2 separate regions of the Homo sapiens genome follow, and region 2 is linked to region 1. Evidence: fine-mapped expression QTL. A gene starts in region 1. The other region holds a variant in brackets. All regions are shown on one strand. Distances are from middle to middle.

Region 1 (5,373 bases):
GCGAAGAGAGGAGGATAAAGCGCCAGAGAAAGGAAGGACAGAGAGAGAGAGAGACAGAGACAGACAGAGAGAGCCAGAGACAGAGACAGAGGAGAGAGACAGAGACTGCGAGATGCAGGGAGAGACAGAGAGAGAGCAACGTGCTCTGCTGTCTTTCAACTATGCCCTGAAATGGGAAAGAAAGATAACATCCAAAGGTGAGGCATACCCTGAGCATACCCCTGCCCAGCCCCCACCTCCTGCAGGGGCCACCCCAGGGGGCATCACAGTGATACATTTTCCAGCTGCCTCCTCTAAAAGCACAAGGCCCAGTGGAGAAAGGGGGTTTGCAACCTTGGAGCACACACCAGAGGCGTCACCCCTCAATGCTGACAGTGGAGCCCCCAACACTGTAGCCGGGGAGGTGGCCACATGGATGTTACTCTTCGACTTCTCTCTTTTTGCCCCTTAGGCCAAGGAGCCACAGCTCCATCCCTCAGAGCACCCATGTCCTTCCTGGGCTGCCAGAAGCATCTCCTGGAGCCTGACCCCATTTGCACAACACTGGCCGACCCTCCCAGGTAAAGGCACATGATGGCATCTCCTGCCCCAGTGGCCAAAAGCTCTCTTTTACGGGAGTCAAACAAGCGCAGACCTTGGCATTCGGCTGGTTCTGAAAGGCAGGACTTTGTGTCCTGAGGCTTCAATACAGATGCCCCGAAAGAACCACCTCTCAAAGCAATTGCCCCCAAACTTGAGCCCTGAGGACAGCATCTTAGCAAACACCAACCGAGAACAATGTGAGAGCATCCCACGAACCACCACCTCGTCCTTCCAGAAGGGTGCTCAGCCCAGCAGAACAGAACAGCATCTCTTCCTGGCTCCACCTTCCCCATGAAACTGTGCAGGCCCCAACCCCAAAGCCCTCCCTCTGCTCTTGGGAATTGCTAGGACACCTCAAATGAACGCAAATAAAATTAAAAGATTTTTTGAAGAAAAAGACGACCAATTGAACAGCTGGGTTCATGAACGAGAGGACTGAGGACTCTGCCACCTAAGCGACGCTGACCAGTTCTGCCTCCAGAGGGCTTCCTCCTTGAGACCCGAGAGTTCACAGTAAGGGGGACTCTTCCCCACCCTGATGGGCACCTGGAGCTAAGCCCCCAGGACCTCGGAGAGTGCCAGCTTCCCGCCCACCTCCAAAGTCCTTGCCACTCACAGCCCTGCCAGGCCTGGCCCAAGGTGAGCAGCACCAGCTCGGCGTTGTCGGGAACACTGGGGAAGTAATCTTCCGTCAGCTCCGTGCCATCCTCGTACAGGCACAGCCGGGAACCGCGCTCAGGGAGCTGCAGGGACGGGAGAAGCAACAGGAGGAGGAAGGGTCTCAAGACGAGGGCTTTGCATCTGCAGGCCTCACAAACGACCGGAATGAGCTGTGCTTAAAGAAGCAGGCTCAGGCTGCCGCCTGTATGCCACAGTCGCTCCAACGCCCAGGCAAGGATGAGGGAGCGGGAGCAAGGGCGCCTGACTGCGGGCCGTTCTAAAATACGAAGAGTCAGGAAAAACATACATCAGGGGGTGACTGCTGGCTCTGCAGGATTCACCCTTTTTAAATGAGCTCCTGAGGGCGCTTCAAATAGAGCCTGTCTTTGACAGCGCCGCCTCCCTGCTGCCAGGAGCTGAACACCACCATCCCCAGCACACAGCCGCCAGAGCGGTGCTGGCACACGAAGGAGAACGGTTGGTTGCCTCTGTGCACAAGTGTGACCGGCACGTGGCACTGTTAATTTGTTGGAGTCCGGTTCCCTGTTACTCTGCACTGGTCAGTTTTAGGCATTTTATGGCTACTCCCACCCCACCCGCACCGACCCCGGCAATGCACACCTGGTAACCCTAGTACTGGTCTAAAAAGAAAACCAACCTAGAATAAGGTGACGATTGCAATCCCCAGCTGCGAGGGCTGGAAGGGGCCTGCAGAGCCCACCTAGCCAAGCCTTTCATGTTACTCAAGGGGAAGCTGAGGCCGGACAGGCAGAGCAGCCGTGACCCCGCGTGCCAGTACCTGGCACTCTACCCGGGTCTCCTAGCTCTGATGCAGGGCTGTCCTGCCCGAGAGGTGGGAAGAGGGAAGGGGTGATCCAGGTCGTCCCCCAACCCCCCTGCGTTCTGAAGCCACGCTCAGGAACCCCAGGCTGCGGGGGCCCGGGGTCCTAGCGGCTGAGGCGAACGAAAACTACCCGCCCCGGGCGCCGCCTGCACCCTCCGTTTTGGAAGAGGAAAAGCGGCACCTCCTATTCTCCCCACACGCCTCCCCGACGGGCCGTCCCCGCCTAGCCCAGCGGGCACCTGGAAGCGGAGACAGCCCTTGCGCAGCACCTCCTGGCAGCTCCGGCCAGCCACGCCGAACTTCCTCGGGCTGCGCAGGGCCCGCAGCTTCACGCTCTTGGGCTTCTGGAGCATTGCAGATGTCCTCAAGCCCTCTGGGTCCCACAGGCGGTGGCACCTGCTGCCCAGCTGCTCAGATCCGTCCTCGCCCTGGCCGCAGGGGTCTGCACCTGGTGAGCTCTGCAAGCTGGCACAGGCCGGGTGCCGATCCCGGAAACTACATTACCCAGAAGGCCTGGGAAAAGTGAGGCCCGACGCGGTCTTGTGCGCAGGCGTCGCCCCACGGACACCACATTACCTTACTCAGAAGGCTCAGGAAAGCAAAGGCGCGACGCCACCTGGTGTGCCCAGGTGCCGTGGCCCCGGAAACTACACAACCCTGAGGGCCAGAGTAGCGGAGCCCTCCCCTTGTGCGCAGGCGCGGCCTGGGGTGGGGCGGGGTCGCGCACGCGCAGAGGCCCTGGCCCAGGGCTGGGCTTGGTTGTCATGAGAGTGGAGGCTGCGGCCGGGGCTATGGGCAGAGGTGGCCGGGTCTGCTTCTTCCCTGTCACTGCCGCAGCAGCTTGGGGTGCAAGGCGGCCTGGGGCGGCGGAAGGGGCGCCCCCCGAGTTCCGTCTGAGGAAGCGGCGGCTGCCGAGGAAGTCCACGAGAGCCGGGTCCCGCACGCCCCTGGGGTCCGGGTGCTGAGGCGCCGCCTGGCCGCCTCCCCGGGCCGCGGCACCGCTCCGACCCAGCCGCCCTCTCCACCGGGGCCGCGGCAGCGCCAGTCGGGGCCCTTCCCTCTAAGCAGGTACCTTCCGGGCCGCTGCGGCGCCGGCCCAGGGCCGGAGTGGGGAGCGGGGCGCGGGGCGCGGGGCGCGGGCGCCGCGGGGGCGCGGTCCCCACCTGGGAGCTGGGTACGAAGCCTGGGTGCGCGGTGCAAGCGCGGACGGTGTGGAGTTAGATGCCGGCCTTGCTGTCGCCGAAGAGCCGGCGCGGCCCCGTCGTGCCGTATGCCGGGGAGCTCAGCACGGGTGCTGGGACCGCCTGCCCCGGCCGGGACGGCCCATTTAGCGTGGAATATTGTTTTCAGATCCGGCTTTTCCTCTTCTGGATGCGTAGCACATAGGGGGCCAGTTTCAGATGTGTTCTGCTGAGCAAAAGTTTGAGGAAAATTGCTCTGTCCCTATAGAGATTAAAGTCTGATGGTTGGTTGTTTTTTGTTTTGGAGTTTGTTTTGTTTTGTTTGCACTTAAGTTCAGATTTCTCTGAAGCCCTTTCAGTCGCTAAGATGACTTGATCAGAAACCCATAAGCCTTTGAGACGGTCTCGCTCTGTCGCCCAGGCTGGAGTGCAATGGCACGATCTCAGCTCACTGCAGCCTCCGCCTCCCGGGTTCAAGCGATTCTCCTGCCTCAGCCTCCCGAGTAGCCCGACTAATTTTTTTATTTTTAGTAGAGACGGGGTTTCACCATGTTGGCCAGGCTGGTCTCGAACTCCTGACCTCAAGTAATACGCCCTCCTCGGCCTCCCGAAGTGCTGGGATTACAGGCATGAGCCACCGCGCGCAGTCACACTTAAAAGTCTTCTTAAAAAGAAAATCAGAGACAAGTTTTGTTTCCTAGTCTTGTAACAAAATGGAAGTTGCTACACTGAGTTTCCGTTTAATTTATAGTTAATTGCCTTTTACCATGCCAGCACTAGGAAAAGTGTAGTGAGGGATGAGACCGCCATGGAGTCATCGCTGCCTGGGGAGAGATGTACTCTGGCATTTGTCGGGATGTCGATGGCTGCCCCTGGGACAACAGGGATCCCTCATGCCTCTGGTGAGGAAGACCAGCCAATAACTGGATGTTCAACAGAGCTTTGCTTCTTCCCAAATTGTTAATGGTGATTTTTATAGAGCCTAAAAGTGGCATCCTTCAGTGACATTCCAAGTATCTTATGTAACACTTGAAGGTTTACACAGAGGGGACCCTAGGGTACAACTGGAAGGTCTTTGGGAGGGGGTAGACTAAAAAAGGAATCCTTTTCAAATACCAGACTGAGGTAATAGCATTGCCTCCACAGTCCCTGTGCATTTCTCTTAGCTGGTTCTTAAATGCCAGTACTTTGTTTTAGATTTGTTGGGGGCAGTATAGCATACTGGAAACACCCTTCTGTTTGACTGAAAAGGTCCTATATTTATGTCTTCGAGCCGTAACAGAGAGTGTTGGTTAGGTTCAGAGACTAGCCAGGCTCGGCGGCTCACGCCTGTAATCCCAACACTTTGGGACACTAAGGTGGGAGGAGTTCAAGACCAGCCTAGACAACACAGTGAAACCCCATCCCTACAAAAAAAAAAAAAAAAAGTAGCTGTGCATGGTGGCATGTGCCTGTAGTCCTAGCTGCTCAGGAGGCTGAGACAAGAGGATCATTTGAGCCCGAGAGTTCATGGTTACAGTGAGCTATGATCACGCCACTGCAGCAGTACAGCCTGGGCAACAGAGCGAGAACCTGTATTAAAAAAAAAAAAAAAAAAAAAATCGGGGCTGGGCTTATTGGCCACGCCTGTAATCCCAACACTTTGGGAGGCTGAGGCGGGTGGATCACCTAAGGTCAGGAGTTCGAGACCAGCCTGGCCAACATGGTGAAACCCCATCTCTACTAAAAATACAAAAATTAGCTGGGTGTGGTGGTGCGCACCTGTAATACTAGCTACTTGGGAGGCTGAGGCGGGAGAATCACTTGAACCCAGGAGGCAGAGGTCGCAGTGAGCCGCGATCACGCCACTGCACTCCAGCCTGGGTGACAGAGTGAGACCCTCTCTCAAAAAAAAAAAAAAAAAAATTTGGAGACTGGAACCCAACAGCCTGGGCACAAGAGGTATTTTCAAGGTGGAATAGGGAGTGACAAGCCCTGCCCTGAAAGATGATGAAAGGGGCCTGGCATGGTGGCTTATGCCTGTAATCCCAGCACTTTGGGAGGCCAAGGCGGGCAGATTGGCCAGGAGTTCGAGACCAGCCTGGCCAACATGGCAAAACCCCGTCT
Region 2 (5,373 bases), 26 kb after region 1:
TTCACCACGGCATTTGAAACCGTAGATGATAAACATATTCCTGTAGCTCTCTGGCTTTCTTAACACCTTTTACAAGATTCTGTCTCTACTCAGTTAACATTATTCTCAGGGATTCACCATCACACTTTCCTTATGCTCTAAAAGGTCAGTTTTGTCTTAGACATAAACTTCAGTTAAAATCTACAGTTGGGTTTTTCCAATGTTTTTTTTATCCAACATATGCCATTAATTTTTTAAATAAATAAAAACACACAGAAAATGATATCAAAAGAGAAAATCTGAGGGTAAAGAAATAAAAAATATAACTGTCTTAATAGAAATATTTTCATTCTTTCACCAAATATGCCTCCTCTAGGCTAGATATTATGGGAAATATTGAGATAGAGATAAATGTATGAGTTTTGGGGCACACAGTTATGCACCATAATTTGAAAATCTTTAAACTAGCTAATGAATTCATCTAGTCTAGGAGTTCTTAAGAGTCCTCCTTTGGGCTTAAGAAGCTTATGAATTACGTTAAGTTTTACACAAAATTTTGTGATGTGCAGATCCTTCTTAAAAAAGAATCCAGGCCAGACTGGGCACGGTGGCTCACACCTGTAATCCCAGCACTTTGGGAGGCTCAGGCAGGTGGATCACAAGGTTAGGAGATCGAGACTATCCTAGCCAACCTGGTGAAACCCCTTCTGTACTAAAAATCCAAAAATTAGCCGGGTGTGGTGGTGCGTGCCTGTCGTCCCAGCTACTTGGGAGGCTGAGGCAGGAGAATCGAACCCGGGAGGCAGAGTTTTCAGTGAGCCGAGATCACGCCACTGCACTCCAGCCTGGCAACAGAGTGAGACTCCATCTTAAAAAAAAAAAAAAAAGAATCCAGGCCAGGCGGGGTGGCTCACGCCCATAATCCCAGCACTTTGGGAGACCAAGGCAGGCAGATCATTTGGGCCCAGGAGTTTGAGACCAGCCTGGCCAACATAGTGAGACTCTATCTCTGCAAAAAATACAAAAATTAGCCGGGCATGCTGATACACCCCTGTAGTCCCAGCTACTTGGAAGGCCGAGGCGAGAGGCTTGAGCCCAGGTGGTTGAGGCTGCAGTGAGCCGTGATCTCGCCACTGTACTCTAGCCTGGGTGACAGAGAAAGACAGTGTCTCAAAAAGAAGAATCCAAAGGGGTCATTTCTCCAAAATATGAGGAACCACAGATCTAGTTTCATTTAATAAACCTAAATTTTCAGAGTAAATAAGGAAAAGGAATGCTAATAAAAAGGTAAGAAGAAATGCTGTCATGCTAATGTGCTACACTACACTCCTGGTTATGACCTACACTACACTCCTGGTCACGACCTACACTACACTCCTGGTCACGACCTACGCTACACTCCTGGTCACGACCTACGCTACACTCCTGGTCACGACCTACGCTACACTCCTGGTCAGGACCTACGCTACACTCCTGGTCACGACCTACGCTACACTCCTGGTTACGACCTAATGTGCTACACTACACTCCTGGTTACGACCTACACTACACTCCTGGTTACGACCTACAATACACTCCTGGTTACAATACACTCCTGGTTACAATACACTCCTGGTTACAATACACTCCTGGTTACGACCTAATGTGCTACAATACACTCCTGGTTATGACAGCTAGAATTTGGGGGTGAGGAGGGTTCATCTTTCAAAAGATATGTTGCAAATGAGCACATGTTATTGCTTCATTTAATTATTTTTAAGCCACATTAATTTCTGAGCAGTTTGGTGGTGCTCAAATGTTCTCTCTATGTGAGACAACCTTAAGGCAATCTATCGAGGGTTACAATTGTGCACCAGTGTGCCGGTTAGTGGACGAAATACACACTCAACAGCATCTGTTTGTAGTTAAGGAGTTTACTGTCCAAACTTCCCTGGAGAATGCTCTTCTTCTCTTAGCTTTTAGATTTGTACAGAGTCACTCACAGGCCCAAATCCAGAGTGAGTCAGGCCAGCACGATAAGAGATTATTTTAGGTGATAAGACCTGCAGACCTATTGGAAACAGGTTTATTTCTGATTGTAACTTAATGATTCAACATCTTATTTTTTTCTCTATATCCGGTTAATTAAGTGATAAATATCTTAATTACGTAAAGACTTGTTTGTTTAGAGACATTCAAATATGTAATGGTACTTACATTTTTTCCATCTTAACCCACTGGTGACCGTATCACTGCAGAATCATACACTCTTGGCTGACATTTAATAAATACTAAAATAACGGTGATTCTAGCAGCAGCTCTAATTTCTTTTAGAATTTTAGAAATGAGAAAACCTTTTCCTTGAAGCTGAGAA[T/C]ACTGAGAACAGAAACCTTCAAGTTTTCAATTACGCTTCTGAAAAGCTTTCAGTAGACATAAAATCGTTTTATTCTTCATGATTTTATTTCCTGTGGCTCAGATTTTCATTTCTAATGGTTGTTACGCTTTAAATAGAAATACAAGCTTACGGATCAGTGCTCTCATTGCTCCTTGTCACTATCAATCTGTATTTCCCTGTTTTTCCCTTCAGTGTTTAGTTTAAGATCATGCTGAATTGTACTAAACTGCCTCCAGCATTTTCCAGTAAAAATTAACAAATTACCTTGGCTTTCATAGGAAATGGCCTTGTTTAAAGAAGTTAAGTCTCTCCAAATTATTCCATCCTACCTGGTGCAGCCATTGAAAGCAAACTCTTCAGTTCACCTGGCAATGAGTCAGATGGGCCTCCTGGCCCGGCTGCTGAAAGACCTGGGCACTGGCAGCTCGGGCTTCACCATTGACAACGTGATGAAGGTAAGCAGACCTCGCGTGTGACACACCACGCGGCCCAGCACTCACCACAGTGCCTGGAGCGTGGCGAGGGTCTCATCGGCATTTGTTGAAGGAATGACTGAGGCAGTGATTTCAGAAAAATAGCCAGTGTTTCATCCAACAAATGGGGGCCCCCACATGCGTCCTGCTGTCTAATCCTACTCGGTGGTGCATGGTGTGTGCAGATCTTTATCTGTGGAGAGAAACAAATCATAAAAAATATTTCTTTGTCTTTTTTTTTTTTTTTTTTTGAGATGGAGTCTCGTTCTGTCGCCCAGGCTGGAGGTGCAGTGGTGCCATCTCGGCTCACTGCAAGCCCTGCCTCCTGGGTTCATGCCATTCTCCTGCCTCAGCCTCCCAAGTAGCTGGTACTACAGGATGCCCACCACCATGCCCGGCTAATTTTTTCGTGTATTTTAGTAGAGACGGGGTTTCACTGTGTTAGCCAGGATGGTCTCGATCTCCTGACCTCGTGATCCGCCCGCCTCAGCCTCCCAAAGTGCTGGGATTACAGGCGTGAGCCACTGCGCCCGGCCTGTCTTTAAGAGACAATAACAGCAGTGTGATGGAGAATATCAGGTACAGGTTGAAGCCCCTTATCTGGAATGCTTAAGACCAGAAGTGTTTAGGATTTCAGATTGTTTTCGGATTCTGGAATACTTCCATTATACTTACTGGTTTGGATCCCAAATCCAAAAACCTGAAATCTGCACATCGGCTACGCAGGAGCGCACACCTCCAAGGAGGATGAGAAACTGTGGGCCCCCGAGACGCACAGCAGGGATGAAATTGCACTATAGCCACAGCGTTCTGTTTCTTAAAAAAGATCCAAAACAAGCGTGATGAAAGTATAACACGGCTTACGATGAGACGGTAGATCCGTGAGGTTTTATGTTTGAAGTATTTCATAATACTTAATACGGATGTTTTCTCTTTTATTTTTCACATGTTTATAATGTACCTTTTTTGTAAGCTGGAAGAAATTAGTTTTATTTTAAGAATGAGTAACAAGAGCCCCTCCCAACTTTAGTTTTCAGTGAGTGCCCTGGAGCATAGAGTGTATGAGGTCCGCGAGACGGCGGTTCGAATTATTTTGGACATGTACAGACAGCACCAGGCTTCCATCCTGGAGTACCTTCCTCCAGACGACAGCAACACACGCAGGAACATTCTCTACAAAACAATTTTTGAGGGATTTGCTAAAATAGATGGCAGAGCTACAGATGCTGAGATGAGGGTGAGTTAACTTTGGTGAAGTTGTGATGTCATCCTGTGTTGAAGAAGTTACTCAGTTACTCGGTACGTAAATAAGTAAATATGTCATTTGAAGGAGCCACATGTATGGGAAGCCCCGGCGTCCTGGCTAAGAAAGAACACAGGTTCCCGCATTCAGATCCCGGCTGCTCCACTTTCTGCCAGTGAGACCCTTAGGTTCCCAGGCTGCAAACGGAATAACGATAGCCGTGAGGACACAGTGGGTTTATCTATCAATAGACACCAATGAAATCAATGGAAAAGACTTATTCTAACTTGTTATTAGTCTTAGTGAATATTATAATTTATAAGAAATATAGTTGATATGCCATAATTTGTCTCCCAGTTTCTAAGATTACCCTAACAAGCTGTTCTAATGGAAAAATAATTTTCTTACCAGGCACGGAGAAAAGCGGCTACAGAAGAAGCAGAAAAACAAAAGAAAGAAGAAATAAAAGCTTTACAAGGGCAGCTGGCAGCACTGAAAGAAATTCAGGCTGAAGTTCAGGTTGGAAGTTAACACGTCTTTCACCTGTGTGCTTTTAGCTGAAATGTATTTTGCTGTATAGATCCACATCATACTTGACTTATTTTTCATGGGATTATGCAAATGAGCGTCTTGATTCCTTTTGGTTTTTTAGGTTAGTTTTGGGGTGGATGACAGAAGCCCTCCATGGAGAGGTGGAATTGGGTGGCAGATACTCTTCCTGCCCCTCCATCCTCTGTCAGAATTGATGTGAGCTGCTGCTGAGGTTTAGGGAGGGACCAGGGGCTGTGGGCCCAGAGCTGCTCTCCTCCACAGCTCTCCAGCCACCTTCAGAGGCAAAGGAGAAAAATCAGCTTGACTATAAAGGTCTGACTTCAGCGCATTAAAAAGGGAAGGTTTCAGGTAAACATTCTGTTTCTATGAGCCCTTACTCTAAGCCTGTGGGGGTGTCATATGTACTGGGAACAAATACTATTTGGTTGAATATAAATGTGTTCCTCTTCAGCCTCCCAGCTTCTGGGATATGAATTAGCTTCATAACACTAATTTTATGATGAAGTTTCCTTCAGTTGAAAGAAAATTTCCTTAAAAAAAAGATATAAAGGTGGCAGAACACAGGGAGTTTCCGTTCCGCAGACCTGAGTTTTCAGCCGTGCCAGGTGAATGAGTTCTGGGACCTGCTGGCACCTCAGGCCTGCAGCCCACGTGGCTGCACAGTGCACGCAGAGCTATTCAGAGGGCAGAGCTCATGTCAAGTGTTCTTACCACAGATTTTTAAAAGAAGAAATGGGTACGAATGGGGAAAA

Direction of the effects. Alleles are on the strand shown, and positions count from the first base shown. SD is a standard deviation of normalised expression in the study named.
In carriers of allele T in region 2, the expression in cerebellum of the gene that starts at base 2,832 in region 1 tends to be lower than with C alone (moderate effect, 0.43 SD a copy in GTEx).

Evidence for each region. PIP is the estimated chance that this variant, and not a neighbour inherited with it, causes the effect.
Region 2: its variant is fine-mapped to the expression of CEP104 in cerebellum (GTEx, PIP above 0.99). The same link has a PIP of 0.9 or more in transverse colon.

Annotation. Positions count from the first base shown.
Region 1 is chr1:3,854,670-3,860,042 of GRCh38, reverse strand. CEP104 (centrosomal protein 104) reads left to right here and starts at 2,832. Exons shown (of 22, transcript NM_014704.4): 1 at 2,832-3,154. DFFB (DNA fragmentation factor subunit beta) reads right to left here and starts at 2,567. Exons shown (of 7, transcript NM_004402.4): 1 at 2,326-2,567; 2 at 1,199-1,325. The coding sequence starts at 2,439. RefSeq lists silencers at 1,686-1,735, 2,666-3,165 and an enhancer at 2,346-2,525.
Region 2 is chr1:3,828,481-3,833,853 of GRCh38, reverse strand. It overlaps CEP104 (centrosomal protein 104), which reads left to right. Exons shown (of 22, transcript NM_014704.4): 13 at 2,632-2,808; 14 at 3,857-4,063; 15 at 4,481-4,588. Among named protein-coding and RNA genes, the nearest start is that of CEP104, 26 kb to the left of the region's middle. RefSeq lists enhancers at 2,054-3,253, 3,337-4,536. The variant T/C (reference allele first, on the strand shown) is at 2,333.